2 separate regions of the Homo sapiens genome follow, and region 1 is linked to region 2. The links come from fine-mapping of genetic effects on gene expression. Tissue or cell type: follicular helper T cells. Region 2 holds a variant in brackets; the other region holds the start of a gene. All regions are shown on one strand. Distances are between the middles of the regions.

What was found. PIP is the estimated chance that this variant, and not a neighbour inherited with it, causes the effect.
Region 1: it holds the start of EIF2A, and the variant in region 2 is fine-mapped to the expression of EIF2A in follicular helper T cells (Schmiedel 2018, PIP 0.95).

The regions. Positions count from the first base shown.
Region 1 is chr3:150,545,803-150,548,487 of GRCh38, forward strand. EIF2A (eukaryotic translation initiation factor 2A) reads left to right here and starts at 985. Exons shown (of 14, transcript NM_032025.5): 1 at 985-1,028. The coding sequence starts at 1,001. SERP1 (stress associated endoplasmic reticulum protein 1) reads right to left here and starts at 694. Exons shown (of 3, transcript NM_014445.4): 1 at 250-694. The coding sequence starts at 333. RefSeq lists enhancers at 205-835, 281-1,480, 753-1,292.
Region 2 is chr3:150,648,534-150,651,218 of GRCh38, forward strand. No RefSeq gene overlaps it. Among named protein-coding and RNA genes, the nearest start is that of SELENOT, 47 kb to the left of the region's middle. The variant A/C (reference allele first, on the strand shown) is at 1,161.

The DNA of each region.
Region 1 (2,685 bases), 100 kb before region 2:
TCAGATGCAGAGAAACCACTCGGACCCCAGGCTCCCACGCCTGCACGCCGGTCGCCGGCCCCCTCACCTCACAGGTCTCCCCTTCCGTTCCCGAGCCCCCACAGTCTGGCGGTTCGCAGACTCGGGCCCCTACCCCTCCACGGCACCAGCCCACGGTCGGCCGGATCCGGGAGAAAACGCGACGCGGCCCCAGGGACCCGGACTCAGCTCCGGCTGCGGAACGCAGAGGGGCGCCCGCTCTTTCCTTACCGAGGTCTTGGCGACGTTGCCGCGCTGGGTGATGTTCTTGCTGTGCTTCTCGTTGGCCATACGGATCCTTTGCTTGGCGACCATCTTCGCGGCGCCACCACCTGCCCCGGCCACCCCTCGGACTCGCTCACTCGCCTGCCTCCTCTGGAGCCGCTGCGAGGCTCGGCTCGTGGTGCCCGCGCCGCCGGAGCGCCGAGGTTCTCAGGCCAGACGCTAGCTACGGCCGCTGGGCCTGGGCGCCGCAAGCGCGAGGTCTGAGCACAAGCCGGGCGCCGGCCGCCGACTGACTGACCGAGCGGGGCAGGTGCGCAGGAGGAAGAGAACTGGCCGCCGGGTCGTTCTCGCGCCGCCGTCGCCGCCGCTTTGGCCGCCGCCGTGAGCGCGGAGTGAAAGAGGAAGGAAACGCAACGCAACAACGGGAATGTGCAGCCCGCCGCCTCGATCTACTTTGGGTTCGGCTGCCAACGTCAGCACTAGACGGACTCCGCCCCGCGGAAGTGCGCGCCCCTCCCGCTGGAGAAGGAGGGCGAAAGCAGGCGCACCCTCCCAAGCTCTGTCAAGCGTCGCCCTAGATTTGCGCGTGCGCGTTTGGGCGCCTTTTCCGCGTCACTCCGTAACCGGAAGTGAATTGGCCCCGAGGCTGATGGCTCCGGAAACACCAATTCGCTGTCTCCACGCATGAGGAGACGTGTAGGGGCCGGGTTCGGCCCTGGTGAACTCTCACCCGAGCGGTTTCTCTTTCCGGGACAACATGGCGCCGTCCACGCCGCTCTTGACAGGTGAGTTCTGAAGAAGCGAGGGACTCTCTTTCTTCAGACTAGTTTCTTATTTTTGTCTTTGCCTTTGAGAACTACCCGAGGAGCCGGGGAGTCTGATCTGCCTTTTCTTGTGGCTTGCGGAAAGGCCAGACTGTTGGCTTTCTTGATATAGCGTGGCAATCGGAAGTGAAGTCTCCGCCTCTGGGCTTTCGTATTCCCCCTCCCTTTCACCCATCCATCATTCTTGCCTGCGGATTCATCTTCTACAGAAATAGAAGAAGGGGGAGAAAAACAATGTGCTAGTTGAATTTGTGACACATGGGTCTGCAATACTGGTGTTACACGGGCCCTTGTGAAGTCATTTAGGTCTACAATAAGAACAAAGACAAACATGAGTTAGTCCTCTAGAATGATCACGCACTTTAAATACACCTGGACTTAAGTAATTCCAGATTCTGGCCTTCCTGCCTTAATGAGGTTTGTAGGACTGAATAGGGAGAGTGGAGCTGTAATGCAGGTTTCAAATGATGAAGGTGTGGTTGGGAGAGGGTGTAGCAGTGAGCATGATAGAGATATTCTAGCAACATTTGATTTTGAAATGGTTATGAGCATATTAGAAATAGAACATTAGAGGACTCTTGAAATTTTGAAGCTAAAGACTGTAGTGTTGGAGGAGATAATAAACTTAGATTGGAAAATGCTGGGGAAGTTGCTTTACTAGGGTGTGGCTAAGAGTCTGCATATGAGTATTACGTAAGGAAAAGAGAGTCGGGAAGGAAAAGAAGGTTTTGGTTAAGTTCTGATAACTATATAGAAGGAAAAAGTCATTAAGAGAAAGGTTGTCTGCATTTAAGGAGGGAGGCTATTCCCTCCCTTCCCCCCCGCGAAAGGAACCTTAAAACATTTTTGCACTTTTTGCCAGTCTACATTTCTATTTTTACATTTTAAAATCTTTGTTATTAAGCGCCATGCCCACTGATGCTCAGTCTGTCTTCTGCAGTTTAGTCATCATTTATCAAACGCCGAGTATAATCTTCTAGATAATATACCAGGCAAAGACTGTTTAAAAGGCAAAGTTACATAATAAATTTTTTTTTAGGTTTGTAAAGGTAGCTTGTTATTCACAATTTTTAATACTAAATGCTTATTTGAACTCTAATGAAAAAATTACATTCTAAAATCTGATAAATAACCCCTCCTTTAAAAATGCCTACAGTAGGTAGTTCCTCTCTGCTTACAGGGTAGATTCCATCCTATGTAGCATAGTTATGTAACCATTTATAATCTTTGAATTGCTCTTGAGACTCATTTATTTCCTTGCCATCCCATCTTATTTGGTGCTCCATCAATACTGAACTGCTTCTGAGTCCCTTTGAACAACCTGTTTCTTCAGTCTAGTACTATCCTATGCCTCTTGTTGATTTGGCAAACTCTTTTTCATCTGTTGAAATTAAAATTCATTTTAGATATCATTGCTCTGTGAAGCCTTTCGTCACTCTACCCAGATAGAGTCAGTCACTTCCTGGGCTATTTTTGTACCTGAAATATATTTGAAATTTTATTTCACTTACTAAGTAGGATAATTAGACATTCACTTGCCTTTCTCCCCTGCTAGACTGTGAGTCCTTCAATGTCAGCGACAGGGTCTTATTCATATCTGTCTTCTCAGTACTAGTGC
Region 2 (2,685 bases):
TTCGTCTCCCATTTACGACGAATGGCAGACCCCTCACCATGGTGTCTCACTGAGGGAGTGTACCAGGTGCACAACCCTCCAAGTCTCCACCCAAGGGATCCATGTTGAGAAAATCAGTGACCCTAGTGATTGGCAAACATACATGTTAAGCAGTTTGTAATTCTTTGAGTTTAACCAAATTTAAGGAGAGTGAATCATACATTTCCACTGAAACTTTACTTTCATCAAAATTTGCTATGTTGTTTTGATCAGTTATGTGCTAACAATAATTGTAATGTTAATCAAAGGATTTTTTTGAACGCAGAGCCTTAAGGTCATAGAAAATAAACTTTTACATTTTTAAATTTTAATATATTATTTTTGTAGTCAAGAAATATGAGAAGATGATCAGTAATAGATTTTCAAGCATAAAAATATATCACAGCCCAAATAAACTTCTTTGGAGGAAGTAGGATGAAACTGTAAGTTCAAAAGAAAATTAAAGGAATGTTGCAGAATTTCTGGCTGTTAAAAAAGAGCTAGTTCATATATTTTTTAAATGGATAATGTCAAGTATTATATTACTGTGGTATTTAGATTCCATTGGATTCATTTTGGAAGGTAATGTTTCTTTCAAAATGTCAAGATTTATAATACATTGAAAATGACATTTTTTGCAACCGCCTAAATTTATGATGAATCATTATAGATGTCAACTGAAAAATGTGCAAGGGGGAACATGCATTAAAATGTTTTCTTAAGGGCATAAAATGGGAAAAGTTTGAAGATCACTGATCTGGACTGATTGGTTCCTTCTGAGGGGGCTAAGTGCCATTCACTAGAATGTAATTTATTTTAAACCATGTCTGTTTTACATATGCTATTGTAAAGAGAAAATTTAATGAAATAGAAATTCATCCATACTTTACAATGTCCTTTGTTTTAAGATTGGTAAACAACGCTACAAAAACTTAAATGTGTGCTTAAGGAAATTGTGTGGGTACATTTTATGTAGCACTTTCTGTTTATTCTCTGTGGGTAAAGGAGAAACAAATATGTTTGTATGGTACAAAGTTACTTCTATTATTGTTAGTACTTATTAACATCATTTATTTTAATACTAATAATTAAATAATTCCTTTCTGATGTGAGCTTTCAGTTCCTACTAATTCTCTCATCTA[A/C]CATAACTCTGTAATTATTTCTTTTTTTTATATTATAAACTAGAGATGAGGTCTCACTATGTTGCCCAGGCTGGTCTGGAACTCCTGAGCTCCAAGTGACCCTCCCACCTTGGCCTCCCAAAGTGCTAGGATTTTAGGCATGAGTCACCACACTCAGACTCTACAATTATTTCTAATTCTTTGAAGCCCCAGAAAAAAGATGAGTTAATTCCTTGGTTTGGTTAGAAGGACTCTGTCAGTGAGAGGCTGGGGTCTCTGTAATTATTACCGTAGTTTCCATCACTAAGCACAACTACAGCAGGCCAGGCACTGCACACATATTCTCTCTAGTGGTCAGACATACATGTTAAGGTCTGAATGTTTGTGTTCCTCCCCAAATTCCTATGTTGAAATCTCAACCCTCATGATGGTATTTGGAGGTGGGGTCTTTGGGAGGTGATTAGGTCATGAGGATGCGGCCTTCATGAATGGGATTAGTGCCTTTACAAACAGGAAACCCAGAGAGGTCTATAGCTCTCTTTCCACCATGTAAGGATACAGTGAGAAATTGGGAGTCTGCAACCCAGAAGAAGGTCCTCACCAGAACCTGATCATGCTGGCACCCTGATCTCAAACTTCCAGCCTCCAGACTTGTAAAAGATGTTTATTGACTAAACATTTATCCAGTTACCCAAACCACCCAGTTTATGGTAGTTTGTTATAGTAGCCCAAACTGAATGAGACACTACAACCATGAGAAGTTGATTTTATCTTTTTCAGTTTACAGCTGAGAGAACTGAGGTTAAGGAAGTTCAGTAACTTGCCCAAGGGCACACAATTAGTTGATGGAGAGCTGGGACTTGCCCTGGGATAGTCTGAGTGATATACTCTTTGGACCCCTCTGGGATTTGGTCCTTGGCAAAGTGAGCCCTGGTGAGGAACAGAGGGAAGAATATTTGATGGGGTCAGATGACCTGGGATCACTTTCTAACTCCACTTGCTGCTTAGCTGTGAGACCTAAGAAGTCACTTGCCATCTTTCAGTCTTAATATCTTTGCTGAAAATTTGCAGTATTGTGAGACTCAAAGTATAAGCAATATATGAGTATGAAGGAGGATTATTTTATCCTATCCTCTGGCTCAGATTTTGTTATAAAATTGACAAAAAAAAAATGTTATCACCTTTTGATCCCAGAGGAGTTCCCAAAACCTCATCTGAGTTTGTGGAATTGGGAATTGGGTTATGTTTTTCCATCTTTGTTGAATGCAAAATGATTGTATCCATCAGCAAATGGATTGTCAAAACTTAGAAGTGCATGGAAGTGTGTAGTATCCCTGCCTGATTTGGGCACTGGGAAAAGAAATCAGGTAGTGCAAACACAGGAAAATGTAACACATCTTTTTAGATAGAGACACATTACCTGTGTGCATTCTAGGTAATCCATGAATTGAATGAACTCAGGTAGAGAATTTCTAGGTTGTGTTAAGTTCTAAATCTGGTCTCCATCTCTAGAGAATTATGTAAGCGTAGAGTTAAAAAAAAGTAA